Linked DNA regions of Homo sapiens. The protein of the gene in region 2 purifies or fractionates together with the protein of the main gene of each other region. This does not show direct contact. Each region holds a gene or a part of one and is shown on either strand. Other genes may lie near its edges.

The links.
Region 1: the proteins of SRPK1 (region 2) and DROSHA purify together in Homo sapiens (affinity purification with mass spectrometry; 4 studies listed by BioGRID and IntAct, with this or other methods). This does not show direct contact.
Region 3: the proteins of SRPK1 (region 2) and RBM27 purify together in Homo sapiens (affinity purification with mass spectrometry; 3 studies listed by BioGRID and IntAct, with this or other methods). This does not show direct contact.
Region 4: the proteins of SRPK1 (region 2) and ACIN1 purify together in Homo sapiens (affinity purification with mass spectrometry; 3 studies listed by BioGRID and IntAct, with this or other methods). This does not show direct contact.

What each region holds. Positions count from the first base shown.
Region 1 is NC_000005.10:31,529,094-31,537,057, reverse strand, and holds the start of DROSHA (ribonuclease 3), read left to right. Parts: upstream 1-4,964; 5' UTR 4,965-5,068; intron 5,069-5,532; 5' UTR 5,533-5,608; intron 5,609-6,133; 5' UTR 6,134-6,260; intron 6,261-7,952; 5' UTR 7,953-7,964. Other genes in the region: UPF0489 protein C5orf22, read right to left, coding at 1,165-1,314, 2,007-2,099, 2,641-2,786, 4,585-4,665. UniProt on the Homo sapiens protein: Ribonuclease III double-stranded (ds) RNA-specific endoribonuclease that is involved in the initial step of microRNA (miRNA) biogenesis.
Region 2 is NC_000006.12:35,883,080-35,890,098, reverse strand, and holds part of SRPK1 (SRSF protein kinase 1), read left to right. Parts: intron 1-1,175; coding exon 1,176-1,284; intron 1,285-1,987; coding exon 1,988-2,075; intron 2,076-3,287; coding exon 3,288-3,375; intron 3,376-7,019. UniProt on the Homo sapiens protein: Serine/arginine-rich protein-specific kinase which specifically phosphorylates its substrates at serine residues located in regions rich in arginine/serine dipeptides, known as RS domains and is involved in the phosphorylation of SR splicing factors and the regulation of splicing.
Region 3 is NC_000005.10:146,198,837-146,206,620, reverse strand, and holds the start of RBM27 (RNA-binding protein 27), read right to left. Parts: upstream 3,017-7,784; 5' UTR 2,856-3,016; coding exon 2,797-2,855; intron 1-2,796. Other genes in the region: RBM27-POU4F3, read right to left, coding at 2,797-2,855. UniProt on the Homo sapiens protein: May be involved in the turnover of nuclear polyadenylated (pA+) RNA.
Region 4 is NC_000014.9:23,092,128-23,099,857, reverse strand, and holds the start of ACIN1 (apoptotic chromatin condensation inducer in the nucleus), read left to right. Parts: upstream 1-4,745; coding exon 4,746-4,883; intron 4,884-5,073; exon of another isoform or gene 5,074-6,206; intron 6,207-6,313; coding exon 6,314-6,379; intron 6,380-7,730. Other genes in the region: CIROP (ciliated left-right organizer metallopeptidase isoform 1 precursor), read left to right, coding at 369-576; uncharacterized protein C14orf119, read right to left, coding at 1,777-2,199.

The DNA.
Region 1 (7,964 bases), on a different chromosome or scaffold from region 2:
TGAATTATATCTGAAATAAATACAATTTTCATATATCACAACAAAGCTATTTGTGCAAACGACAAGATTATATACTACAAAAGTTAATTGTATCATTAAGAATAAATTAGAAATAAAGTATCATTTTCAATGAGGAAGACTATCTGATTTTCAACGTATTACCATTTCACTCCATTATCCTTAAGGTTCTAGAAAGTTATGGCTATACTGTTTAAAATATTTATCCCATCACAAGAGAATTTTAAAGTCAAGAACATATTGATATTTCTGAAAGTATTATAGTATCACAAGATACACAAAACATTGTTAAATAGCTTATACAATAAAAACAGTTGCATATTTATCTCAAGTCAGAGGATACTGTAATTTACTTTAGATTAAGTACTTATCTGAAACTAATTATATTATAAAGAAAATTAAAGCCCCAAATCTACTTATTCAGCAGTTGGATTTATAAAAAAATCAAAGTGAGATAATTTTGCCCTTTCACTGCTAATTACTGTTTTTTTGTTTGTTTGTTTTTTGTTTTGTTTTTGAGACAGAGTCTCACTCTGTTGCCCAGGCTGGAGTACAGTGGCACGATCTCAGCTCACTGCAAGCTCTGTCTCCTGGGTTCACGCCATTCTCCTGCCTCAGCCTCCTGAGTAGCTGGGACTACAGGCGCCTGCCACCACGCCCGGCTAATTTGTTTTTGTATTTTTAGTAGAGACGGTGTTTCACCATGTTAGCCAGGATGATCTCGATCTCTTGACCTCGTCTTCTGCCCACCTCGGCCTCCCAAAGTGCTGGGATTACAGGCGTGAGCCACTGCGGCAAATTCAGCAGACAACAGTTATACTGACAGGAAACAGTAAAATGTACTACTGAATGTATAAATCTATAAGATACTTCAATGGCTTAAGGAGTTAATCACCAATGAAGCCCAAATTCCGGAGGATAATGATCACATTCAAAATCTAATTTGACCAGCAACTAAATATAAATGGTACATGAAGAATATCAAGAGACTTAAAAGTTTGTTCTTCGTGTTTTGAGAACTCTTTGGAGAAGTCGAGGCTTAATCTGACCCTATTTGTGTGCAGAGACTTATGAAGTTATTATAGGAATCCAAAATAAGATAGAAACATTCAATCACTTCCATATTCACAAATATGAGGAAATTACCTGATTGTTGTGGTAGAAGTGTCTTTGCCTACTAAAAAGTGGTGTCTGCCCTCTCTGATCTGCTGAGCCCATGTGGGATGAAACCATATTACATGTGAAAAATGGCCAGCATAAACTGCAGGCATAATCCAATTTTCAATACTTAATTCTCTGGAAAAGAAACATAGAGACAACATTAAAACTTTTATTTTTATTTTTTCCCAAGTGTAATTTTATCCACAACATTTTAAGACCACAGGTCTCAAAGTGTGGTCCCTAGAGTGGTTCCTGAGACTTTTTCAGGGACATCACTATTACAAAACTATTTTCATGAAAATACTAAGGCATTATTTCCTGTTTTCATTTACTGACATTTGCAAAGATGGTGCAAAGGCACTGGTGGGTTGATGTTCCAACATTAATTAAGGCAGCAGCACCAAACTGTTAGTAGTTACTATATTCTTCATTACCAACCACTGCCAAAATAAATAAATAAATAAATATAAAAGTGTCATTCGAGAACATCTTGATTTTATTAAATTTCCATCCTGAGTATACATTTTTAAATATTATGTGTGGCAAAATGAGAAATGCACAGAAAGCTCTCCTGCTACATAGTTTGAAGCATAACAGTTGTCTCAAGGAAAAGCACTTGTGATTGAACTTTGAGGTGAACACCATTTATCTTGAAAGGAGTGGTCAAGAAACTATGGTTATTCACACTTGATACTGAATTGCTGAATTCTACATTTCAAATAAGCTTTAATAAACTACTACTTTTCAAGTTTTGGCGCACTATCAAAGAATATTCACAATTATCTAAAAAGGCTATCAAAATATTCTTTCCTTTTCCAATTACATGCCTGTGAAAGCCTGAATCTTCATCATATATTTCAACCAAAACAGCATATGGCAATGGACTAAATGCAGAAATAGACGTGAGAATCCAATGGTCTCTATAAAGGCAAATATTAAAAGGATTAAACATTGGCTAGGCTGTTTTTGTAAACAAAGTTTTTTTGGTTTGTTTCTTTTAAGAGATGGGGTCTGGTTATGTTGCCCAGTCTGGAGTGCAGCAGCTATCCACAGGCTTTGATCACAGCCTGGAACTGCTGGCCTCAAGTGATCTTCCCACCTTAGCTTCCTGAGTAGCTGGGACTACAGGCTCATCCACCATGCCCAGCTTGTAAATAAAGCTTTATTGGAACACAGCTACTGTCATTTGTTTACACAGTGCTTGTGATTGCTTTCACACTACAAAGGCAAAGATTAATAGTTGCAACAGAGACCATATAGCCAGCAAACCTAAAATATTTGCTAATCTGGCTCTTTAAGAAAGTTGTCAACACTTGTTCTAAATAAAATGAAAAAGACAAAAAGACAAACAAAAAACCCCCAAACCCATGAGTTTAGCAAAGTCTATTTCCTATAATTGCTTATTATCTACTGCAAATTGTACTTCAAACACAAAAGACCATAAATAAAATCACATATTACCCAAAGAGTGTTTCCTTATCAAACACGGTGTCTGCTGGCATATTCACAGGAATAAGGAGGTCTGGATGTGAGTCGAAATGTAAAAAACTTACATTACTGGCAGGAAGATGCTTTGAGCCTATGGCCCGGTATATAAAGGGTAGAACCTGTAAAAGACACAGGCACACAATAAGAATTAACACTGAAACCATGAGCACACACTCAACTGCAGACTGAAAAACAATGCTAAATAATGCACATAATTGAAAGCATACTATGTTGCTGTAAAGTGGAAAAACATAAAATTTGTTTACTGTAGATGGTGCAGATGATAATCTCAAGCATTACTTTGTCCTCAGAACTTCCAACCTGCATCTCCAGCGGCCTTCCTGCTGCCCCCTTGAACTCAACAGGTCATGTGGGGAAACAGACCAGGACTGGGGCTCAGGAACAAACTACCGCTTAATGCCTGTTCTAACATTAACTAGGTGTTCAAGGTACCCTAGGTCTCAAAGTATTCTTTTTTTTCCTTTAAAAAGGGATAGGGGCTTGTCAGTTGCCCAGCCTGGAAAGCAGTGGTGTGATCATGGCTCACTGCAGCCTTGGACTCCTGGGTTCACACGATCCTCCCACCTCAGTCTCCTGAGTAGCTGGGATTACAGGCACGCACCACTACGCCCAGCTAATTTTTTCACTTCTATTTTTGTAGAGATGGGATTTCGCTCTGCTGTCCAGGCTGGTTAGGGTCTTTTTGGTACACTTAGAATGGTGGGGTTGGGCTAGGTGGTCTATAAAGGCCATTTCTCCTCTTACATCTTCTCTAATTCTAGGTTTAATACCTAATTTGAAAGCACCGTCTAACCTAGGCTTTCTCATTCTCTCAAGGTCATAGACACTATATCCAGGTCCTGAGAAACCTATCTTCCTCTCCTATTAGCTGTCACCAACAGTAAATCCCTCTTCTTTTTTAACGTCCAGAGAACTGCCTCCCATCCCAAGCCTACTGATGCTACTTTAAAACATATTTATTAGATCCATGGGCCTCCTTTGTTGACTTGGAAAAGTCTAGATTAAGACACCAATTTGGCTACTGTAAATCAGCACGGCCATAAACATGGAAACCCCTTTTAGTGTTTATCTATGCAGGGCACCGTGTTAAATTTTTTTTTTTTTTTACGCAATATGGGCCGTGCGCAGTAGCTCACGCCTGCAATCCCAGCACTTTGGGAGGCCGGCGGGGGCCGATCACGTGAGGTCAGACTTTCAGACCATCCTGGCTAACGTGGCGAAGCCCCGTCTCTACTAAAAATACAAAAATTAGCTGGGTACGGTGATGCGTGCCTGTGATCCCAGCTACTCAGGAGGCTGAGACAGAAGAATCGCTCGAACCCAGGAGGCGGAGGTTGCAGTGAGCCGAGATCGCGCCACTGCACTCCAGTCTGGGTAACAGAGAGAGACTCCGTCTCAAAAAAGAAAAAAAAAAGATTTTTAAACACAGTATGCACACAATAATACTCCTAAGAGCCCTGTGAGTCCTACGATTACTGTCCCCATTTCAGATCAGAGCCCACGTTCCAAGCATAAAGCCTCCCATCTAAACAGCAGGGCTGTGGTGGCGATTCCAGGAGATACTTGGAAGCCAGAGTTAACTGCAGGTTAAGAACACAGGGCTCTGCAGCCAGACTGTCCGGTTTCGAATCCCGATGCCACCTTTTGTTTGGTTCTGGGATTTGGGGGCAAACCGAGGTAAATAAGTTGCCCCGACTCGTAGGAAGCGCCCATAAATGTCAGTTCTCATTCTTCCTAGTTAGCTGTTTTGGGGTCCTCTCCACAGCAACGGAATAGGGCAGTTTAACTCTGGTTAACTCTCTGGCCTCCGATGCTAAGGTTGCGCCCTCTGCTTGGCCCTCTGAGCGTCAGGGCTTCCGCTGATTCTGCCCCAGAGCCCTGTTGCCGTCCGCTCACCTCCTGATGATCCTCCACCACCCACACTGGGAGCTTGGGGTAACGCCGGAGACCAGCGCGCCCTCCCGCGGAGTCACTCATGTTTTTGCGCCCGTCAGTTTTGCAGTAAAGCGGTGGCAGCTGGAGAAGACCCGGGAAAGCCGGCGCCTCATCCCGGCCAGCTCTCTCCGGGCGGAAGCGCTCCCTCACCCGGTTGCGTTTTCGGATTGGAGGACGTAGGGGGAGGGGGCGCGGGCTCCAAAGGGTCTTTTGCTGACGATTGGTCTAGACGTCCATCGCTTTCGTTGACGCGCCAATCACCGCGCACAAGGCCCTGCGGTGGGCTGAAGAGTTTTCCCTCCCTTGGCCCAGCTTTCTCAGGTTTGCTTTTTAATTCCCTCGGTTTCCTGTTCCGGAGGCGCGGGCGGTGCCACTGTCTTGGTACCTGCGGTAGTAGCCTGGCTTTGCTCTGACGGCGATCTCGCGGCCCGAGAGCCTTTTATAGGTAAAAGGGGTACCTTGCAAGTGTTAGAAGAGAGTTTCCGAGTGTCAGGATTTAAACGGGGCTGGAGTCTCCGGGGCTGGGGTGAAAAGCGTCCGGGAATTGGGGTCGGGCAGCCCCACTTCAGATCTGCAGCTAAGGGCAAAAGAGCGACGCTAGGCCTGGATCCCGCAAATAAGTGGAAGTGAAAAAGGAGACCTTTCATTCATTTGTGGAGCACACACTATGGTCCAGGCCTGGGGCCGCCCGGCTCTCGGAGGGGAGTGAGATCCTGAGCTCAGCGCCTGCCTCGTGGGGCGTACCGTCTGGCGGGAGATGCAAACAGTAAATGTGCAGTTATGGATCAGGATGAAGGTGACTGCCCTGCAGATCCACCTGGGGAAAGAGGGAGTTCTCAATAAAAATGTAGTCACACTTTAAAATTCTTTTTACATGCACTGACGTTCTGGCCGTGTTAACTATTCAAGACAGCTCCTTCAGTGTCTCTGTTTCCAAACCGCAACCGAGAAGAGACAGACGGAGAAAAGAGAGTTACTTTTCCAGGTGCAGTGAATTCCTTGACTTTTGAATTAAAGTCTGCATCCACAACACAGCCGGACTATGCCTTCAATAGGTCAATTTCATGATTAGTATTTTTAGATTTTCTAACTACTGAAACATCCATGAGGATCTGGCAGTGAATGTTCAGCTCTTGTTACACACTGTACAAGAGTGTTCGTGACCCTGACTTTTGCCCACCTCTAGGTGCGGCACACACCTTTGTGTTCCCCTAAGCCCTGCACATACCTCTTTTTTGTGTGTTTATTGCATTATTTTGTATTTTTAAAACACTTACTTGTACGTGGGTTCTGAGTTCCTTGAATCCTACAGGCTGTGTGTCTTATTATCTCTGAGTCTACAGGGCCTGGGACAGTGCTTCCCATTTATGGGCTCATTAAATATTGCATGACTCAGTGAAAAGGCCTGCTTTCTGTTGCGGAGGTACATGGAAGGGAAATGTACAGTAGCAACATGGAAACATACTATTGGTGAGAGAGTAAACATTTATTGACCACCTACTGTGTGTAGGTTGCTTTTCCCGGGGATGTGAAGGATACAGAAATGACTGTGAATCAACCCATATCATCAAGGAGCTGATAATCTAGTGGAAGAGTTAGACGTGTGCATACTTCACTATGATATGAGGCAGTCTCTGGTAAGTGCTGTAAAAGGATTAAGTATAGACTAAGTCTAGAGGGAATGGGATTACCTAAGGGAATCAGGAAGGGCTTCATAGAGGAGGTGGCATTTAAGATTGATAGATGGATAGAAAATCACTGGGCAGATTCATACGTTGGGAGATTTTTTTTTTTTTTTTTTTTTGAGCTAGAGTTTCGCTCTTGTTGCCCAGGCTGGAGTGCAATGGCGCGATCTGAACTCACTGCAACCTCTGCCTAGGGTGGGAGATTTTAGAGAGGAGAACGGGAGCAAAGAACTAGCTGGTTCTTTGTACTCGAATGGTAATCTGTTGGGAAAACATGGGGTAGTAGGGTCTTTCTGGGGAAGGTACTGGAGAACAAGCCTGGGTCCAGAGTCAATAGAGCCTTAAATGCCAAGCACAGAGGTTGAACTTGATTCTGTTGGCAGTGAGTAGCCTATGGTGGCAGGAGCACCTGTCCGGGCCCCAGGTTTATCATGAGGGTACTGGACTGGATAATAGTAATAAGGAGTCAGGCGCAGTGACTCACGCCTGTAGTTCCAGCTATTTTGGAGGCTGAGGTGAGAGGATTGCTTGAGCCCAGGAGTAAGAGACAGCAGTGAGCTATGATTGCACCACTGCACTCCAGCTTAGGGACAGAGTAGACTTTGTGTCTTAAAAAAAAAATCAGATATTATTTGGTGCCTATTATTTATTAAGCACACTGACTGCTAGCATAATCTGAAATTATTTTCATGAGCCATTTGAAAGTCTACATAGTAAAGTTCTATTGATGAGACTTTTAGAAAGACTTTCAGAAAATGTTTCTATGTTACAGCTTTTTGTACTCAATATTTATGTGAGTTTTTAAAAAATGTTTTGCTGAAGTTCAAGTATTTGGAAAATCATTCATGTTTACAGTGTTTTTATGTGGGAGGAACTGAGAATGAAAATTAAGAATCATTAACTGGTGTGTTAACAAGATTCTGGTTATGTTTGAATTTGAATGCTGGTCTCACTGTGATTTTTGTGTTTGGTCTATGCCTACATGGTTTGTTTTTTTTTTTGTTTTTTTTTTTTTGTTTGTTTTTTTGAGACTGTCGCCCAGGCTGGAATGCAGTGGCGCCATCTCGGCTCACTGCAAGCTCTGCCTCCCAGGTTCATGTCATTCTCCTGCCTCAGCCTCCCGAGTAGCTGGGACTACAGGCGCCCACCACCACGCCCGGCTAAGTTTTTGTATTTTTAGTAGAGACAGGATTTCACTGTGTTAGCCAGGATGGTCTCCACCTCCTGCCCTCGTGATCCACCTGCCTCGACCTCCCAAAGTGCTGGGATTACAGGCGTGAACTACCATGCCCGGCCTATGCCTACCTGTTTTTACCATGAAGGAAACGAGAGTATGAAGGGGGAGAGGGGAAATGATATTTTTCCCAAGTCTTTTAACAAATTAGAGATGATCTATGCCTATAAGTCTTTTTAGCTGCTGATAGTTTTGAGTTGGCAAAACTAGTAATAATGACATTTTAAAATTTAAGGACATTAAAAATTTAGTTGGAAACTTTAACACAGTTCAACATGCTTTTAATTTTGTTTGTAGGCTAAGTGTATTGGAAACTACAAAATTAGTGTTATGGTAATTGCAGAAATATTTTGTAGCATTGGCAGTTTGGGAAACATGTTTATGTCTGTTTTATTCTTTCTGTTTTTTAGAGCTTATATTCT
Region 2 (7,019 bases):
CTCGCTCTGTCGCCCAGGCTGGAGTGCAGTTGGCGCGATCTCGGCTCACTGCAAGCTCTGCCTCCCGGGTTCATGCCATTCTCCTGCCTCAGCCTCCCGAGTAGCTGGGACTACAGGCGCCCGCCACCATACCCGGCTAATTTTTTGTATTTTTTTTTTTTTTTAGTAGACACAGGGTTTCACCGTGTTAGCCAGGATGGTCTCGATCTCCTGACCTTGTGATCCGTCTGCCTCAGCCTCCCAAAGTGCTGGGATTACAGGGGTGAGCCACCGCGCCTTGCCGTTTTTTGTTTTTTGTTTGTTTGTTTGTTTTTTGAGACAGAGTCTGGCTCTGTCATCCAGGCTGGAGTGCAGTGGCACAATCTCAGCTCACTGCAACCTCCACCTCCTGGGTTCAAGCGATTCTCCTGCCTCAGCCTCCCGAGTAGCTGGGACTACAGGCATGCACCATGACACTGGCCAATTTTTGTATTTTTAGTAGAGACTGGGTTTTACCATGTTGGCCAGTCTGGTTCTCAAACTCCTGACCTCAGGTGATCCACCCACCTCGGCCTCCCAAAGTGCTGGGATTACACGCGTGAGCCACCATGCCCAGCCTTAATTTTTGTATTTTTAATAGAGACAGGTTTCACTATGTTGGCCAGGCTGGTCTCGAACTCCTGACCTCAAATGATCCGCCCTCCTTGGCCTCCCAAAGTGCTGGGATTACAGGCATGAGCCACCGTGCCTGGGCTGTTTTGTTTTGTTTTTATTTAGAGAAAATCCCGTTTGCTTACTTGCTTTTTTTTTTTTGCTAAATAAACAGAATTATTCTGTCTCCTAAAAAACACCTGAGACTGTAATTGTAAATAGATATATATGTTTAGATAAACCTATTGAATTATTGAGAGACAAGAATATCATGATATACAACCTTTTTATTGTTTTTGGATGAGACTGTTGTAGGCTCAATCTAAATCATTAATCTTACTCACTTTTTTTAATAACATGAATTCAGTAATACTATGTGGCTGATTTGACTATTAAGATTTTCTTCTGTTGAATTGATTGTATAAAAGAAACTTTTTATTGATAAAAGGTATATAGATGTTGAAAAATGTGATGTTAAAAATGCCTTTTCTTACCATTGTTTCTCATCCTGGTTTTTCTGATTGTATTTCCCCTGTTTCTTCCAGGAGGTTATCATCTTGTGAAAATTGGAGATCTATTCAATGGGAGATACCATGTGATCCGAAAGTTAGGCTGGGGACACTTTTCAACAGTATGGTTATCATGGGATATTCAGTAAGTTTTAGTGGTTCTGTAAAAGAATTAGTTAGATGATGTCTAAATGTGTTTGTCTGAGTTTCCACTGCTGATCCAGGCTTCAATCTATCTCTAGCCTGATTCATTTATCAGAATTTTGTTGTTGGCAATAGTCTCTGTATTCTTGGAGAAACCACTTTTCTTTCGTGAAGAATCAGTATTATATATCTCCCTTTCTACTATAGAGACAGGAGTGATTAAATTAATGCTGGTAAAGCTTTTGTCGTTTGATTTTTTTGTGATTTTTATCATTTTCTTTTCACCGAAGTATTTCTTCTGGCTGCCTATGGGAAAATATTACAGCTTTTAACCTTTTAGTTTTTGCCTATATACAGATATATACACAGAACACTTGGAATTTGGTAATATCTTTCCCCTTATTTATCCTCATTTTGCAGTTTTGCTTGTAACTCAGGGAGATATTCAAAAGAAGGATTTTAACTCAGAGAAAATGTTCAACAACTGAGATTATCTGAGAACAGATTTTTTATTCTTCCTATAAATGAAATCTGGCCAGTTAGTGTCATTAACAAGTATAAATGTTCCCATAGAAGTAGCTTGTTTGGGCTACAGGGAAACGTGAAATCAATATTTGTCCTTTTTAACCATCTTATAGCTAAATCTTAGCTTCCTAAAGTAAGGGTAGGCTATGTAGTCTTAATTGCCTGTGTTTGTTTCTTAGGGGGAAGAAATTTGTGGCAATGAAAGTAGTTAAAAGTGCTGAACATTACACTGAAACAGCACTAGATGAAATCCGGTTGCTGAAGTCAGTGAGTATTAGATTATATGTATGAATGTGAAGAATTATAAATAAATCAAGTTTCATTGAATAAAAACACACCAAGTGGAGGCTCTTTAGCATGGATAATTTTCTCTATAAAGTTCTAGTAACCTTAAAGAGGTAAAGGAAGACAACAATATTTACACATACCATGCATGTAGTAGGGAACTGGTGGCAAATGCTATGATGAGAATTCTTCTTACACGCATGAACCAAAAAAAAACCTTTCAAATGAATAAAAATATTCACTGAGCATGTTTTACAGGCCAGGTAGCTACTGTCATAATGTTTTTTTTTCCTACTATGGTTAAAAGGAAAGTTGTGTAAATAAATGTATAGCATCTTTTTTGTTGTTTTTCAAATATGTTATAGAATACATAATATAAAAATACTGTATTTACTGATTCCATTTATACCTGGAAACTGAGATAAATTCTATCAAAAATGTATTTTTAGTTCTGTTTTAAATTAGGAATATGCCAGTGTGGTAGAAGGAACTTAAATTCAGAATTAGAAAACCTGGGTTTAGGTCGCCTTTACCCCGGTATGTCCTCCATGTTACCATTTTTTTCTTTCTGAGTCTCAGATTTTTTATTCATAAAGTGAGAATGTTGCACCAGGAGATTTCTATGGCAGTAGTTTTCTTTTTTATTTTCAACTCCTGGCCTCAAGTGATCTGCCTTAGCCTCCAGAGTAGCTGGGGTTACAGGCACAAGCCACTGCATCTGGCTTAAGACAGTACTTTTCAGAATGTCCGTTTGTGACAAGATAAGGAGCCTTGTACCTACCCAAAAGTAAATCAACATACTGTTTTCTTCATTGAGAAAGTTTTTCCATGAAAAAAAAAATGTCCGCTGAAAAAAACAGTGTGGTTAGTGCTGTAGTTGATTTGCATCCTGCAAAATCTTCTTAGTTCCTCATAGCCTGGTAATCATCAGTTAATTTGGAGGCCACACTTTGATTGATATCAGGGAGCAAAATAGTTTAATTAGAAAAATAGTTCCTGTTGGTTGTATTTCCTCTTATGAATTGACTATTTAAGATTTTTCTCCATTAAAGCTATTGAAATTTTAGTATATTTTAAAAATAGATTTATGTGAGCTCTTTCTTGTAGTTAATTTGCTGTAAGTATTCTTCCCCTACCATCTGGTTTATTTCCATGCTTTACCTTGTGCTAAACACTGTCTCTTCCCCACTACAGGTTCGCAATTCAGACCCTAATGATCCAAATAGAGAAATGGTTGTTCAACTACTAGATGACTTTAAAATATCAGGAGTTAATGGAACACGTATCCTTTTAAAAACCTATTTGAGAATAAATCATCCCAATCCCAAAGAAAGGAACTAGATTTGTTGTGTAGATGGCCTTGGTGTCTTTTCTAAGGCAAACTATAATAAAATTACCTCTTTTATTGTACACTTCTGAACACACATCTGAATTTTGTCTAATTTTGTGTGGTGTGATTTTTCAGAATATTGCTTTAAGCTTCTTGTCCTCTTTTCAGGCAAATTAAAGCGAAATCAAAGGAAACTTTTAGAAAATGCGTTGTATCACTAAGTAAAGAGTCTATGATTTTTGTCAGTTAGCACAGAAACTTTAAGGGAAGTAATTTCTTATGAAAAATACTGAGTAGGCCGGGCACGGTGGCTCAAGCCTGTAATCCCAGCACTTTGGGAGGCCGAGGCAGGTGGATCACCTGAGGTCAGGAGTTCAAGACCCACCTGGCGAACATGGTGAAACTCTGTTTCTACCAAAATACAAAAATTAGCTGGGCATGGTGGCAGGCTCCTGTAATCCCAGCTACTGGAGAGGCTGAGGCTGGAGAATCACTTGAACTGGGGAGGCAGAGGTTGCAGTGAGCCGAGATTGAGCCCACTGCACTCCAGCGTGGGGGACAGAGCCAGACTCTGTCTAAAAAAAAAAAAAAAAGATACTGTCTAAAAGAAAGAGAAAAAGAGAGAAAGAAAAAGAAAGGAAGAAAGAAACTGGATGAACAATTTAAGGTATGATTGTATTTATTATACTAAGCCTCAACTTTGAAGAGGCTGTGAATGTAGTTTATGTTTAGAGTCTAAAAGGGTGTAATTGTTCACATTCTATTATAATGAAAAACTGACTTGTTTTATGTTTTTATCTGGATGTTTTAGAACTGTAGAATTGAAAGGAACCATAGCTGATTTTCTTCACAGGTATCAAAGTGACGTGCGGTGAGCTAATGGAAAGGTTATTGCAACAGCTGTGCTTATAAAGGTCAATCAGATTTTTCAGTAAAAGATGAAGTCGAATCTTACTTAGATTGGATAAATCTAAAATCACCTGTTTATAAGCTGTTTTTAAAATGTATAAAGACATTTCATACATTATTTTACTTTTCATGCATGTTTAGCTTCCTTTAATGCACATTCCTAATTGCTGTTGATCTTTTTGTATTTAAAGGAGACAGGACTACATATGACTAGTTTCATGTAGACTATGGGAAGAGATTTGAACAGAGAAGCAGGAAGGAAGGGATGGGAAAGGAGAGAGAACAGCTGATAATGTGGAAAGACTATTGTTCTAAAGTCAATTCTGAGTCATTTCTTAGAAAAATACAAATCACAGATTACCCAGATGTCTAAGGAAAACTGCTGCAACCATCTTAAAACAGTATCTTGTGCTTATTGTGGTCACTTTGTAGATGGCTCTCTCTCTCTCTCTCTCTCTCTCTCTCTCTGTGTGTGTGTGTGTGTGTGTGTGTGTGTGTGTGTGTGTTCAAAGAATTAAGAATTCTAAACCAAGTAATTTTTTAAAAACCTACACAGGGTGTCGTGATGGCCATATCTGTTTTTTCTATTATTTAATCTTGTAATGTTTGTCATTGTGCCAGATTTCTTTACTAATTTGCAAAAGTTCCAAGTAAAACTATAGAAATACTCTCAAATCTCCCCAGTAATGCTGAGTACCTTTATTTGACCCTAACTAAGCAAAGAAGGCTTTTTAACTATTGAAATATCTTAGTAGGTTTGAATTTCAAGTTCCAAGATATTTTTCTTTTTCTTTTTTGGAGTTCAATGGCATAATCTCGGCTCACTGTAACCTCTGCCTCCTGGGTTCAAGTGATTCTCCTGCCTCAGCCTCCCGAGTAGCTGGGATTACAGGTGGATGCCACCACACCCAGCTAATTTTGTATTTTTAGTAGAGATGGGGTTTCACCATGTTGGCCAGGCTGGTCTCAAACCCCTGACCTCAGGTGATCTGCCCGCCTCGGCCTCCCAAAGTGCTGGGATTACAGGTGTGAGCCACCGTGCCCGGCCCCCAAGATATTTTTCAAACATTGCTAGGTGGTTTCTCTGTAGCTTCTGTCCATTGATTCCCTATTTTATTCTTTTCTCCATTTGTTCTTAGCCATTTTTTCCTGTCTTTCTTCATCCTTATCTCCCAGCTGTCTTTGCTCCTGCATTATTTACTACTGTTAGAGATTGAAAGGATATAACTCAAAACACTATGTTAAGGGTTAGTAATGGCTCATGTCACTCTCCTGCCTCTACCCGTTTTCCCAACATAACATACCCACACAGAGCAGTACATCCACATTCGTGTGTATGTTTGTTCAGGCGTTTTTTTCTCTGGACCACTATCGTTTCTCATATTAAAATATAAAGGGCCCTAAACTAGAAAGTTAGTTCTTACAGAATTCCATATAAACTGGCTCACTCTACTTGCCTGGAGGGTGAGGGGAAAAGAATGATTAAGAAGGAGGACAGTTGGTTTCTCTATATAATGTTGACATTAGCCAGTCATTATTGTCTGCTTATATGACCTCCTATGTCTTTAGGATACTTTTTTTTTCATGCTGTATTCTGTCTGTTTTGCTAGCTCCTCTTATTCATAATGTGCCCTAAATGTGCTTACTCAATAACATAAGCCTTTTATTTTCAGCCTTTTGTTATTTTCTTTACACTGTCTCCCCATTAGATTTTTTTAAAAATATAACCTTGTGGGCCGGGTGCAGTGGCTCACACCTGTAATCTCAGCACTTTGGGAGGCCGAGGTGGGCGGATCACGAGGTCAGGAGACCGAGACCATCTTGGCTAACACGGTGAAACCTCATCTCTACTAAAAATACAAAAAAAAGCTGGGCGTGGTGGCAGGCGCCTGTAGTCCCAGCTACTCAGAAGGCTGAGGCAGGAGAATGGCGTGAACCTGGGAGGAGGAGATTGCAGTGAGCCAAGATAGCGCCAACTGCACTCCAGCCTGGGCGACAGAGCAAGACTCCGCCTCAAAAAAAAAAAAAATAACCTTGTGATTTCAATTACTAGTGCTTCTGATTGCTACTCATTAGCTTTCTTTCACTCAAATTATTTGGCTCTTCCTTTTTGCCACTTGATTATGATGTTCTGTCAAGTTTTTTTTTAAGCTACTATATGTTTGGTCATTTTAATATCACTGCTTACAAATTAAAACATTTTCAAATTGTAATACTTCTCTCAACAAATAAAAATTAAGCAGATGGAAGCTAGAAACATAAGAGAATAGCTTTACAATCCTATTTTATGTTTAGTCTTTTTAAGTAATCTGCATTTTAAATAATCTTGTTTTGATAATTTTTTTTATTTAATTGCTTTTTTATTTTTATTTATTTTGAGACAGAGTTTCGTTCTTGTTGGCCAGGCTGGAGTGCAATGGCGCAATCTCGGCTCACTGCAACCTCCGCCTCCCAGGTTCAAGCGATTCTCCTTCCTCACCCTCCCGAGTAGCTGAGATTACAGATGCACACCACCACGCCCAGCTAGTTTTTGTATTTTTAGCAGAGACGGGGTTTTGCCATGTTGGCGATCCACCTGCCACAGCCTCCCAAAGTGCTGGGATTGAAGGCATGAGCCACCATGCCCAGCCTATTTAATTGCTTGTTTAAAAAAATTTCCTGGCCAGGTGCAGTGGCTCACGCCTATA
Region 3 (7,784 bases), on a different chromosome or scaffold from region 2:
CAACAAGAGCGAAACTCCATCTCAATAAATAAATAAACAAACAAATAAAGTATTTTAGCCTTTTTTTTTTTACCCTAAATGAGCAACAAAATTAAAAAAAATAAGCATGTGAACTTTAAGTTGAATATATAACTCAAAAGGAGAAACTAAACTCAAGTAATCATTTTGAAAGATAATTTTTACTCATGAAAATTACAGAATGATCATACTTATGAGTCTAAGTAGCTTTAAAAAAAAGAAGGAAAAAAAAAAAAGCCTAAGCAAGAAGAAGCTCCCACCCAGACTAACCTTCAACATTAAGGGGAAAAAAAAAAAAACAAAAAACGAAAAGCACTACTCAGAGTAAAACATCTTAGGGAGCTTTAAAAAAAAGAAAAAGCAAGTAACTATAAGGCTAAAAGTTGTTACCTTCTATCCAAGACATAAAATGTATGTTTAATTCTTCTTAAAAGGATAGCTACCAACAAAACTAAACTTGTCTGGAAAGTAGGTTGTTTTTTCTAAAGGCATCAGAGCAGCAGAAATACAAAATAAAGAGATGTATTTTTTCTTTTTTAATCTTAAATAACATGAATAACACTTTTTTTATTTTTATTTTGTTGAGACGGAGTCTGGCTCTGTTGCCCAGGCTGGAGAGCAGTGGCCTGATCTAGGCTCACTGAAACCTACACTTCCTGGGATTCAAGCGATTCTTCTGCCTCAGCCTCCCGAGTAGTTGGGACTACAAGCACGCCCCACCACAGCCGGTTAATTTTTATACTTTCAGTAGAGACGGGGTTTCACCATATTGGCCAGGCTGGTCTTGAACTCCTGACCTCATGATCCGCCCGCCTAGGCCCCCCAAAGTGTCGGGATTACAGGCGTGAACCACCGTGCCCAGCCACATGAAGAATACTTTAAACATACAGATATTTTTCTTTTTTCAACCTTTTCCCATATATGGTCAATTTCATTACATCCATCTTATTTCCCACCTTCACCACAAACCATTTCCATCTTTGTGCCCAAAACTTTATTGTAGGAGTTAAAAAAACCCCTATTCAAGAGACCTATATTCTTCTACAAAACCTTCAAGTGTGTTCAGTCATTTTCACTGAAAGAGATCAACAGGGAAGTAGCTTGACACTGTCCCCCAGAAGTTCCTTTACCATGCCTCCACACCTCCCAAACTACTCCCTATTTTCACCTCCGAAAAACACTCAAATTTTCCACTAATGCAATCTGACCTAATGAATCAAAGCCTGCCCATCTCTTCTTCTACCCCTTTCTTTCAAGCAGAAAGCTCTAACCTTCAATAAGAGAATAATAAAGCAGAAGCAAGGAGGAGGCAAAACATGATTCTTTCCCTTCCAGTAACTAGCCATACCCCATTCCCCCAAATAAGCACTCCACAACTCTACCCTTTAAAATGGTTATCAAACATGGCCGGGTCCAGTGGCGCACGCCTGTAATCCCAGCACTTTGGGAGGCCAAGGCGAGCGGATCACCTGAAGTCAGGAGTTCGAGACCAGCCTCGCCAACAAGGCGAAACCCCATCTCTACTAAAAATACAAAAATTAGCTGGGCGTGGTGGCGCGCGCCGGTAGTTCCAGCTACTCGGGAGGCTGAGGCAGGAGAATCGCTTGAACCCGGGAGGCGGAGGTTGCAGTGAGCCGAAATCCAGCCACTGCACTCCAGCCTGGGAGACACAGCGAGACATTGTTTCAAAAAAAAAAGGTTATAAAACAAAATGTTGATACATCTGTTACCTCTTTCAAGCCTCCCAATAACATTTCTACTAACACCACCCAAAATATTTTTAAAAGACAGGTCTCTCATTCTTTTCGGTCCCTCATACTACACCCCAATTATCTTCAGGTGTCCTCTCAATCTTACAAAAACATTTACAAAACTGTCCTCTCAATGGCACAAGAATACTTACAAATCTCTTATTCTTTCTACCGCTCCTTTTATTCCTCCAACACCACCTGTATCTAAAAATCCCTACATACTGTTAGGTATACTCCTCCACCAATTAATGCTGCATACCAGTGTAGCCCTTTCAACCTTCAACTAAACTTACAGAAACCTCTTTTTTCCAACCTCTATGTATCTAAAAGTCATCAGTTCCCCTAGCACTATCAAGCCCTCAATAATACTTTAAAATCCCTTAATATCCTTGCTATCACACTTATCACCTCCCCAATAATTTCTAAAACCCTTCAATGCCCACACATCCTTTTCATCTACTCCATAGTATTTTTCAAATCCTTCAATATTCTTGATCCCTCAGAACTTACCAATAATCGCTATACAGTTTCAATGTCCCTGCTATCCGCTTCTGCCCTCATATTTCGAAAATGCCCTCGATATTTTGCTTCTAGACCTTTCAGTCCCGGAATAATAATGTTTATCAAACCCTTGATATTCTGCTATTCCCTTCGACATCTCAATATTCACATTTTAAAAATCCCTCAAGAGCCCCGTTACCTCTCTCTCAGTTCTCAAACAGCAATGTTTTAAATTCCCTCACGGCCCCTGCTACCCCTTCCAGCACCCCGATATTTGCGTTTGAAAAGCCTTCGCTGTCCTTGCCTGCCCCCCCAGTCCCCATATTCACGGCGCCTCTCCGTCCCCAGCGCTCCTCTCCCACCCTCACCCCCACCACAATGGTGATAGTACTACAGGGAAGGCGTCGCCGGGACCTCCCGGCCGCGGCCCCTCAGCGCCGCCCCCCACGCCACCTCCCCTCCCCCACGCCCCCGCGAGCCCCCAACGCCCACGTTCGCCGGCCCCGGCCCAGCCCGGCTCACTCACATCGGCTCCAGTAACTTGGCCAGCCAGGACTTGAGGGCATCCACATCCTCTATGAGCATGGTGCAGGGAAGGCGGGCTCGGCCGCCGCTCTTCTTCAGGCCTGCCGTGGGTCTCCACTACGCCGCCCCCTCACGTTCCCTTCACAGCTCCCGGTGCCCCAGCCCACCGGGCATCTTAGGAGACTTCAACCTACTCCCCCGGCCGGGGCCTAACAGGAACTAACCCAAGAGCCCTCACTCAACCTAGCCCGAAGGCTGAGGTGGGCGGGAGACAGTGCCGAGTGGCAGGCCTGAGAACCAGTAAGAGAGAGGGGGCCCTGAGGGCAAGACCAATGAAAAGGCTCGCTCGCCCCGCCGGCAGGCGGTACCCAGTCAGGGAGGAGAGATATAGCAAGGTAGGTGGAGAGCTTAAGTGAACTCCTGGTGCAAGATGGTATCTTGGAAAAGGTGCTTTGCCTCTTAAAGGGGCAGCGGCGCCTTTTTTTGACCACGCCGCCGCCCGCCGCGGAATACCGGTGTCTGCTGCTGGGAGTGCCTGGGGGAACCCGGCGAGCCCCTCAGCCTGGTTCCTTCCTCTCGTTTTTCTTGGAAACACACACTCGTGTCCCGAAATGACTCAGCTGTAGTAAATCTGCAACACAACGTGCAATACGTTCACGTTCGACACATTGCACAGAATGCAAAATTTTACTTTTTTTCTTTACACACTCATGTTGATTGGCACTCACGTTTGTATTTTCTGCTGCTCTGCTTTAATTACGCAGAATGTTTCTGACAACCATGCCTTGGAATCCAGTAATCGTCATTTTTAAAACGTGGCGCACGGATGTAAAAGGCTGAGGCCATTTCAATTTTGCTAGTACTATTAATAAATGTTGCTTTATTTAGGAAGAAAAATGACTCCAATAGTTTGTTTTTAATTATCTTTTCATTGTATATCTAAAATTCAGTGGTTGGGGGACGGGAAGGGAGAATTTTAATCAGCAAAGAAGGATTACAAAAAAATTTTTAAGACAAATTAGAAACTACTGAAATAGTCAACTTACTTTCTAGTAGGTGAGAAATTCTTTCTGGAGTTTTGAAATCACTGATTTAGCACTGATGTTAAAATGTTTACCCAATAACATATACTGAGTCCCTGCAATTGCCAGCACTGAGTAAGGCACTAGGAGTCCAATGCTGAGCAAAACAGAGCTTCTCCTCTTAAGATGATGAACAGTTTATGGGGTTATGCATTGTAATAACATTTTGAAAAATACCTAATGAGCACGCACCTCATATAAAAGAAATGGATCAACCTCAAATAAACAGACATCCTATATATACATAGAACAGGTATAGGCAAACTTCTGCAAAGGATCAGATACTAAATATTTTGGTTTTGTGAGCCTTGAGGTATCTATGGCAACTACTCGTCATACAATGTCTTGGCTTAAAATTAACCAGGGACAATATGTAAATGGAATGATTGTGGCTGTATTACAAACATTTATTAAAATTATATAAAATTTTAAATTTATATAATTTTCACATACCATGAAATATTATCTTTTCATTTTTTTCTCCATTTAAAAATGTAGGCCAGGCTGGGCGCGGTGCCTCACACCTGTAATCCCAGCATTTTGGGAGGCCAAGGCGGGTGGATCACCTGAGGTCAGGAGTTCCAGACCAGCCTGACCAACATGGTGAAACCAGTCTCTACTAAAAATACAAAATTTGCCAGGCATGGTGGCACACGCCTGCAATCCCAGGTACTCGGGAGACTGAGGCAGGGGAATCGCTTGAACCCAGGAGGCAGAGGTTGCAGTGAGCCAAGATCGTGACAAGAGCCAAAGAAACTCCATCTCAAAAAAAAAAGGGGGGGCTTGGCACGGTGACTCATGCCTGTAATCCCAGCACTTTGGGAGGCCCAGACGGGTGGATCACCTGAGGTCAGGAGTTCCAGACAAGCTTGGCCAACATGGTGAAACCCCGTCTCTACTAAAGATACAAAAATTAACCGGGCATGGGACGGGCGTGGGCCAGGCGCAGTGGCTCATGCCTGTATTCCCAGGGCTTTGGGAGGCCGAGGTGGGCGGATCATGAGGTCAGGAGATCGAGACCAGCCTGGCCAACATGGTGAAACCTCGTCTCTACTAAAAATACAAAAATTAGCTGGGCGTGGTGGCGCGTGTTTGTAGTCCCAGCTACTCAGGAGACTGAGGCAGGAGAATCACTTGAGCCCAGGAGGCGGAGGCTACAGTGAGCCGAGATCATGCCACTGCACTCCAGCCTCAGCGACAGAGCAAGACTCTGTCTCAAAATAAAAAAAAAATTAGCTGGCTGTGGTGGCACACGCCTGTAATCCCAGCTACTCCAGACACTGAGGCAGGAGAATCGATTGAACTGGGGAGGTGGAGGTTGCAGTGAGCTGAGATGGTATCACTGCCCTCCAACCTGGGCAACAGAGCAAGACTCCGTCTCTAATTAATTAATTAATACAAATAAAAATGTAAAGGCCATTGTAACCTCACAGGTGTACAAAGAAGATGCCAGCAGGGTTTAGCTTGCTGGCCACAGTTTGTAAACCCCTTACATAAAGTAGTAAAAGCAGAGGTGCACTTAAAAATAATGTAATGAACCTCCCTCACTAACCCCCTCCTCATAACTTTGCAAATGAAAGAAAAGGTCCAGAGAGGCAAGTGGTTTACCCAGAATTACACCTCTATGGAGTAGAAGTAGCATCCAGAGGTTCTGACAGCAAGCCAAGAGCTTTCTCACTTGCAACTCTTGCCTCTTCTTTTCTCTCTCCTCTTCCTCCTCCTTTTTTAAAGTTTATCCACATTTTCCCTTCACTTCGAACAGCTACAGAAGTTAGCTGGGTGTGGTGGCACATGCCTGTAATCTCAGCTACTTGAGAGACTGAGGCACGAGAATTGCTTTAACCTGCGAAGCAGAGGTTGCAGTAAACTGAGATCAAGCCACTGCACTCCAGCCTGGGTGACAGAGTGAGACTCTGCCAAAAAACAACAACAAGAACAACAACAAAAACAACAACAACAAACAAACAAAAAAAAACCCTAGCTCCCACCTTGGATCTCTTGTTCAGGGGAAAGCTAGTCATCATGTTTCAAGACATTCTAGCAGCCCTGTGGAGAGGCCCACGTTGAGAGGAACTGAGACAACTGAGACCCCTTCCCAACCAAGGGAGAGTGGGTGTGGTTATAAAAGTACAACATGAGGGACACTTTTGGTGTTGGAACTGTTTTGATTTTTGACTGTGATGGTGGATACAGGAACTACAGGGTGGTAAACTGAATAGAACTAAACTTACCTATAAAGTCAAGTTGATGGCTGGGTAAAAAAAGAAAAATAGAACCAAACTTACATATGCACAGAAGGGACCTCAAAAAGTTCATGGAAAAGTGCAATTAAAAGAAAAATAAAAACCACAAACTTTATTTCTCAACATAAGCTTTATCAAGTTCCAGGCACATTGAGAACATACAAGTGATACCACACAAATGATACTGGGCATTTAGTTCATCCCTAAAGAACTGAGAGTCCTGGGAATTTAGCCATGTCAATGCAGTCTTTTTTACATTATGAACTGAAGAAAAATGGGACCCTTTACATATTTTTTAAACATTAGGAAACAAAAAGAAGGCAGAAGGAGCCAAATTAGGACTGCAGGGTAGCTGCCTAATGATTTCCCATCAAAACTTTTGCAAAATTGCCCTTGTTTGACCAGATTTTTTTTTTTTTTTTTTGAGACAGTCTTGCTCTGTCGCCCAGGTTGGAGTGCAGTGGTGCAACGTTGGCTCACTGCAAACTCCGCCTCCCAGGTTCACGCCATTCTCCTGCCTCAGCCTCCCAAGTAGCTGGGACTACAGGCACCCACCACCATGCCCAGCTAATTTTTTGTATTTTTAGTAGAGACGGGGTTTCACCATTTTAGCTGGGATGATCTCCATCTCCTGACCTCATGATCCACCCTCCTCGGCCTCCCAAAGTGCTGGGAATACAGCCGTGAGCCACCGCACCCGGCTATTAGATTAATGAGCAGGAGCATTGCCAAGATGGAGAAGGAATCTCTGGTGAAACTTTCACAGATGTTGTTCTGCTGAAGCTTCAGCTAATTTTCTCAAAACACTCTCATAATAAGCATATGTTATCGTTCTTTAGCCCTCGAGCAAAATGCCTTGAGCATCCCAAAAAAACTGTTGCCATGACCTCTGCTGCTGACCAGTCTGCTTTTGCTTTGACTAGCCCATTGCCATTTTCTTGGTAGCTATTGTTTTGATTGTGTTTTGTCTTCAGGATTGTACTCGTAAAGCCGTGTTTCATCTCCTGTTACAATTCTTTGAAGAAATGCTTCAGGATTGTGATCTCACTTCAAAATTTCCAATGAAAGCTACTCTTGTCTGCAGCTGATCTGGTTGCAGCAGTTTTGGCACCCATCAAGTGGAAAGTTTGCTCAACTTTAATTTTCAGTTAGAATTGTGTAAGTGGAACCAATTGAGATGTCTATGGTGTTGGCTGCTGTTTCTGCTGTTAATTGTTGGTCCTCTTCCATTAGGGCACAAACAAGATTAATTTTTTTTTGTTTTTGCAAACTGATGTGGATGATCTGCAGCTGTGGGCTTCATCTTTTACACTCTCTTATCCCTTCTTAAAACAAGTTATCCATTTGTAAACTGCTGATTTATTTGGGGGCATTGTCCCCATAAGGTTTTTGTAAAGCATGAATAATTTACCATTATTCCACCCAAGCTTCACAAAAAATTTGATGTTTGTTCTTTCTTCAATTTTAGCAGAATTCATGTTGCTCTAATAGAGGCCCTTTTCAAACTGATGTCTTATCCCTCTTAGGGCCTCAAACTAGATCCTGTTTAGAAATGTTGTAACAAGTTCGTATGAGTTTATTTTGTTAAAAACATTTGAAATCCATGCATAGTTTTTTCATAATACACATTTTCCATAAACTTTTTGAAGACTGTGTGTGTGTGT
Region 4 (7,730 bases), on a different chromosome or scaffold from region 2:
AGAAGACTTAGATCTTGATCTTATTTCTACTTTAAGGTTCGATAGTCCCTCTTAATGATTTCCTGTTTAGCTTAATGCTTGGATGAGGCGGGGCTTCATGAGCTCTATCTTTAAGGGTAAAGCCCCTTAGCCAGACGTGGTGGTGCGGCGTGCGCCTGTAGTCCCAGCTATTCGGAAGGTTGAGGCAGGAGAATTGCTTGAGCCTGGGAGGCGGAGATTACGGTGAGCCAAGATCACACCACTGCACTCCAGCCTGGGCAACAGACCAAGACCTTGTCTCCAAAAAAAAAAAAAAAAAAAGGTAATGCCGCTTTATCTACTAAGGCTAGGCATTATTCCATGCCAAATATTACCTTCTATGTTCCTAGGTTGCTGGTTACTTCAGACCATAATCCCTCCATGACCCACCTAAGGCTGTCCATGGGACTCTGCCTAATGCTGCTAATCCTGGTGGGTGTAATGGGAACCACAGCCTACCAGAAAAGAGCCACTCTTCCTGTGAGACCATCTGCCTCTTACCATTCACCAGAGCTCCACAGCACAAGGGTCCCAGTTAGAGGAATAAGGGAGGTGTGATGTTGCCCAGAACATGACAGGGGGTAAGGAAGAGAATAATTTCTTGTGAGACAACTGGATGGAAAATCTATTGTGTATACTTAATTTCTACTTTCTTTGGAATGCCTCTTTCCCCGGTTGTCAATATTATATAGCCTGGCAATGAAAAAAGGGTGAAGTTTTACAGTTCTAAAGATCCATTCTTTATTTTGGTACAAAAATAAATTGTTCAACCTGTAAATTGTCACTTATTTTCGTATTGTTGTAAAGCAAACTTACAGAATAGGAACACCTGCTACCAGTTCCAAGAATATCACATACATATGCCTTAGAAAAAGGCCAGGTATGATGGTTCATGCCTGTAATCCCAGCACTTTGGGAGGCCAAGGTGAGAATGGATCGCTTGAGGCCAGCAGTTCAAGACCAGACTAGAAAACGTAGCATGACCCCTGTATCTACAGAATAATTTAAAAATTAGCCAGATATTGTTGTGCGGGCCTGTAGTCCTAGATACTCAGGAGACTGAGGCAGAAAGATTACTTCAGCCTAGAATTTGAGGTTACAGTGATCTCACGCTCACTGATGATCATGCCACTGCACTCCAAACTTAAGTGACAACCCATGTTTTTAAAAAAAAAAAAAAGTCACCGCGAGTTCGATTCAAACAGTGTGAAGGAGGAAGCAACTAATTATCTCCCTCTCCTGATTTTTCATAATTTTATTAAATCATCACTGGGAAAACTAATGGTTTGCGTATCACACAATTACACTACAATCTGATAGGAGTGGTAAAACCAGCCAATGGAATCCAGGTAAAGTACAAAAACGCCACCTTTTATTGTCCTGTCTTATTTCTCGGGAAGGAGGGTTCTACTTTACACATTTCATGAGCCAGCAGTGGACTTGAGTTACAATGTGTAGGTTCCTTGTGGTTATAGCTGCAGAAGAAGCCATCAAATTCTTGAGGACTTGACATCTCTCGGAAAGAAGCAAACTAGTAGACTGATGAGCTGGATTGCTTAGATTGATAACATTTACAAATAGGAGTCCAGTTGACATGCTATTAATGTTGAAATAACCATGCCTGTACTGGTCAGTGAGTTCGGTCAGCTGGTTGGAATACCAGTTCCAGAGCTTTAGGCGACACATTTGAATTGAGTTATCATTGTAGAGAGTCATGGCTCCATCAGCTATGGTTATCTTCTTTGGTCTGAATGCCTATCAGTCCTTACCAGCTGTAGCAGCCACTGCTTGGTAAAACTTTGCCACGAAGTCTGGCTCACTGAACTCCAGCTGTCTGACAAATTCATTGCGCTCCTGCTCAGCCCAGCCTCGAAACCACTGATCCCAAAGATGTAGCTGGCACTCAAAGATAGAAGGTGGTCGGTCTGCCCCAGACACACTAAGCTGCTCCAGACTATCCAGCAGTGGTTGTAATTTTTCTGGCACTGCCTTAGCTACCAGGTCCTCTAGGAAACGTTCACGCTGGGGACCTGACCAATTGGCAAACCAGTGAAGAATACACTTCATCTCCTGGGAGGTGATGTAAGACATCAGAGGAGGGGAAGGGTTAGTATTGTGTGGTACTGAGGGTAAGAGAGATGGGAAGGATAGTGGCATTGAAGAGGATGACTCCAGTGGCATCCTGAAACATAAAAGCACTGTTATATGCTCTCCAGGTAGAGCAACGAAAATACAACTTTCAAGCAACAAGACATCTTACCACACTCAATTAGCATCTACAGAGAAAATTACTTTTTATGAATTCAAAGACCCAAAATAATAAGAGTCCTTTATTTAGATTATTATCCAACTACCTTAGAAAAATCACCAAAAATAACTTCATTTCCTATTTGCCTGCCTTTTTCAAACCCATTCTTCCCCACCCACTGTCTTCCTCCATCTTTCTTATAAAGAACCTAAAAATAACCAATATATTTCTTGTTCATTCTCTTCCTCTTACTTCTATGTGCCAGGTTGGGTAAAGAAAAAAACAATGATTAATGTTGGTCCATTACATCTTCTCCAAAATGAAAATGCACACATTTTAAAATCTAGTACGTGCAGCTGGTCAAGGCTGATGCTAATTGTTTTGCAGCTATCAACAGTGGGGGAAGAAAGAAAAAACATTATTTATGATGAAAGAGCCTTCAATGTGCATATAAGCCTCTGAAATATGCCAACAACTCCATAACATCCGTTACCTCCTTACATTTCCTGTAAAGCACCAGGAAAAGTTAAAAAGCAGAGTAAGGACCTTGCTCAAAATAAGGTAACGCATGAAAGAACCAGAAGCCCGGGTGTTTGAGACGTTCTTAAAAAAGAGTCCAGTTGGTTTGTTGGCTTAGAGATCTAACAAGTGTTATACTATTTTATGACAATCCATGTCTTTAAACAATTGTCCTTAATATTTAGTATGGGCCAGACGCGGTGGTTCTTGCACTTCCAAAGTAATCTCAGCACTTTGAGAGGCCGAGGCAAGAGGATCGCTTGAGCCCAGGTGTTCGAGACCAGCCTGGGCAACATGGCAAAACCTCATCCCTACAAAAAATAAAAAAATTAGTTGAGCGTAGAGGTGCCTACCTGTAGTCCTAGCTACGTAGGAGACTGAGGTAGGAGCATCACCTGAGCCCGGGAGGTTGAGGCTGCAGTGAGCCCTGATCGCGCCACTGCACTCCAGCCTGCGTCAGAGTGGAGGGACCCAGAGTGGAGTGACAAAAAAAAAATTTTTTTTTTTTTTTAGTATGGTATCTATTGGTGCCTTGCAATTTTTTTTTTTTTTTTTTTTTTTTTTGAGACGGAGTCTTGCTCTGTCACCCAGGCTGTAGTGCAATGGCGTGATCTCAACCACTGCTTCCTGGGTTCAAGCGATTCTCCTGCCTCAGCCTCCCGAGTAGCTGGGACTATAGGCGTACGCCACCACGCCCGGCTAATTTGTTTGTATTTTTAGTAGAGACGGGGTTTCACCATATTGGCCAGACTGGTCTCCAACTCCTGACCTCAAGTGATCCGCCCGCCTCGGCCTCCCAAAGTGCTGGGATTATAGGCGTAAGCCACCGCGCCCGGCACCTTGCCACTGATTTTGCATCATGAATGCAACGGAAAGATCAGCCAATTTGACTTTAATAGTTTTCAGTCTCTTAAATCTCTAACGTATCTCTTAAATCTCTAAACTATTTGTCTGTGACCTATTTTACTGTTTGTGTTTCTTCTGCATCAAGTTGGAGGATTGGTAGTGACAAAGAAAGAAGCCCCTAAACAATTAATATTAGTTCAAGTACCAAAAAAGTTCAGGGCGCTTGCATTTTCCAGTTCTTGCCCTACAGGAAGCAGTTCCTCCAAGGGAACTTACTCTCTTCTGCGGAGCAAGGAAGAACTTTCCCAGAATCTTGCCACATGGCTTCCAAGGCAAACTCAAACTCAAGTTCAGCGTCATAGATCAGTTCATAGTCTGGGTCCGAAGACACGGCGATGCTTCTTGCGCACCCCCACGGAGCTTGTTATTCCGATTCCGCACCAGCCCCCCGCCCCTCCCCAAAAAAAGCCTAAGATGGGAGTGGCTATGATTCAGAGGACAGAGGGCAGAAGCTGTTTGCGTTAAGGAGTGGGGGGCTTGCCCTATTAAGGTAATCCGCAAACACCGAGTCTGACCCGGCCCATAGAGGTACTTCTACCCCGCTTACCTCCCCTTTTCTCTCGAAGGGCACCCGAAGATTGTCACGAGTCCTTAGACTCCAACTACTGCGGCAGCTTCCAAATTTCCTGAAAACCCTAAGCTGGGCCAGCCCGGCAGCCCACGCACTTCCGGCCTCGGACCCGCCCCAAACACCCAAGCGCCCCAGCGCCTCATCTCTAGGTCCGGAAATAAACGAACATCTCCGATTATGGTTATACCAGGGTCGAGGGTTTCCGAATATATTCGATTCAAAGCTTCGGCAAGACGAAGAAAACCGAGCCTGAAAGCAGGGCGAGAAAAGGGGCGCTGCAGGGCGGATGGAAAGAATTGATTGGTAACGATGTGGAGACGGAAACATCCGAGGACATCCGGAGGAACCCGGGGAGTTCTGAGTGGTAATCGAGGGGTAGAGTATGGCAGTGGGCGGGGTCATCTCGGTACGTTCGAAGGGCGTTGGCGGAAATTACCGAAGATGCCCGAAGCCGTCGGGACGGACCCGAGTACCTCACGCAAGATGGCGGAGCTGGAGGAGGTGACTCTGGACGGGAAGCCTCTTCAGGCGCTGCGGGTGACCGACCTGAAGGCCGCACTGGAGCAGCGAGGCCTAGCCAAGAGCGGGCAGAAGAGTGCCCTGGTCAAGCGGCTCAAAGGGGTGAGGAGTCGGCGTTGCTGGGGTGTCGGAGGAGAGCGGACCCGGTAGAGACGAGCCTCTGCCGCGGCGCAGGCGCAGTATCCGGGCTCGGCGCGAGCTCGCTCAGGCCGCCAGCGCGAGCCTCTGGATCCGCGCGCACGGTGGTTGATGAGGTTCGCGCTGGAATGGAGATCGCGCCGGTTCCCGCCTTAACGGCAGCAGCGCGAGCCCAAATGGGAGGGTGTGCACTACTCTCCAGGAGTGTCTTAAGCTCCTTCCTCCTTCCCCCACCCCCTCCTTGTTTGTATCTGTGGTTTCGGCGCATGCGCTGCAGAAGGAGTTAAATCCCACTACAACCTACGGCGTTGCTGGCCTGAGGGGGGCGAGTTGGGCTGGGTCGGAGTTAGGGGTATAGTTGCGCGAAGGGGTGGATGGGGTTGGTATCGGTATCTGCACGAATAGGACTGGGGTAGGGTAAAATGTCTGCTCGATTAGATGAGGAGGTGAGATGAAGAGAGACCTTTATTTGAAGGGACTTGATGAGAGAGAGGTCTCTAATTTAGTGGCATCTAGTGGCAATTTGGGTGGTTAAGAGTTTGGTGAATATTGGTGAGAGAGGCGAGGCAGGTTGATATATATTGGGGATTTTGAATCGGTTTGAGTAGATTAAGGTGGGATTGTCATGAGGTAGGTGTAGCTCGATTCAAGTGTATAGGTTTGGTTTAAAGAAGGGAAGATGAGGATGTCTTGGTTTTAATTAGAGTTCAACAGGATACGTGGCAGGTAGTGCAGATTAGGTCTGGGTTGGCTCCAGGGTTGAGTTGGCAGACCGTTGCTTATACAGAAGCTGATAGTTTTGTGTGTGTGTGTTTGTGTGTGTGTGTTTGTGTGGATAGACTAGGTTAGACCACAGTTTACAGGGTCTGTGGTCATTTTCTTCTGTAGCTTCCTCTTTGAAAATTTTATAAATTTGATAAATCTAGGTGCCACAGTACTGGAAATTATACAAATTGACCCTGGTACTGGGTAACCCTTTGACCAAGTAATTCCGTCAGGCAAAAACCAGGAGCCCCATGGCTGGTTTGAGTATTTTAAGTAATTTTACATGCATGATCAGATTTAGAAGGGGCACTTGGCGAAAGTGCAGAAGATAATAGGGATTTTAGTACTGGTTCTATTACTGATATTATGACATAGCCAGGTCACTGATTCTGTGTGCCTGCATTTTATATCTGTACATTTAGTAACAGTAACCATGGCTACCTTTATGGGTCTTCTGAAGATGAATGAGAACAGTGTTAGTAAAGGGTTTTCAGGTCCCTGGAAAAGGAATACAGTTTAATTGTGTGTATTTAAGTCATTGCGTTTAATTTAGAGGTTGTGGTAGAGGTGGGGGTTTGTTTTTCTTTTTTTTCCTCATCATTTCTGACTTTTACCCTTCTCTATACCAGGCTCTAATGCTAGAAAATTTACAGAAACACTCAACACCCCATGCTGCATTCCAGCCAAATTCCCAGGTGAGAAAGAAGGTGTATTCAATGGAGTGGGCCCTTTGGATATCCAGACACATGGAAGGACGTGGTGTTGTATATTTGATGCTTAAGTCCTCATGACTGTTTTCCTAAGTTCTCTTAGTCAGAAATGTTCTCAAACCAGGACAGTTGAATTCTAATCAACCCAGTTGTATACAAGGGCCTGGAGTAAAGAACAGAATCAGAGGCACTGTTAGTTTATAATAATTGAAATGGCATGTGTAGAAAGGTGTGGCTTCCATTAATTACGTGTAGTACAGAGATCTGAAGTCATTTATCTGCCATGAATTTAGGAAAGGTAGTTGATGTCTTTGAGTATAGATATGAAGTAGATCACCAATATGGCAGTGTAGGGAAATAGTTGCTGATTAAGAACTCTTGTTGATGTAGATTTTCCAAGGGTTCAATCCTGTGTAAGTCACCCACCATTACTAGTGTTAACTACTAACTCAGTGCACTTACTCATAAACATTACTAATACCTCTTTACTTAGGATAAGAAACAACCTTTGGAGGCCTTGGTCTTCTCCATTTCCTTATCTGTAATATGAGAAACAGACTAAACCCATGGGTTTATAACTGTTCTCTTAGGGTTTTGTGGAGCTGCTTTGGGGAGCTTCCTAGGGGAAATACCTTTTTCCCAAGTAAGCAAGGCTCATACTCCTCTCTTAAACTAGATTAGATCTACTTTTTAACTATTGAGTTTCTGCATAAAATTTTTAAATTATTCCACAGTTAAAATCCAAAAATTATTAGGCTGCACAGTCTCTTAAAGTTTCTTTCAGCTTTTAAAAATCCCCTCATTATAATGTGTCATATACTTAAAGGAAAAATCCAAGTCTTTGTTAAAGCAATAGTGTGCAGCCTCAGTACTAGATGAAGTCTCAGGATACTGTGGAAAACAAGAGAGCCCTCCTCCTCCTTTGTTATCACCTCATTAAGCTGTAAGTATCATAATCTAGCCAGCATTCAGAGGTTCAATTAAGTACTTTAACAAGCATAAGAAACTGCATAAGTTAATCAGCTTAATTGTATTCCTTTTGCCCATTGCATGTTAGTCTTTGAAGCTTTGCTTTTATTAACACCGGGTTTGTGCAGCAAACATGCCTATTCTGTAATACACATGCAACCCACCCTTCAACAATGTCCATTGAGTGCCAAGAGACTCATTTCTACTTTAGGTGAAAATAAACCTTTACTATGTTTAGGAAACATGACTAATAACATAGAAAGTATTCAGGTTTTTTTGCTTTTTCAGTTCTAAATAGGACTTGCTAAGCAAGAAGGTTCTAGGGAGGAGAACTTGTGAAGAGAAAGCTGGAGGTCAGAAGGGCAAC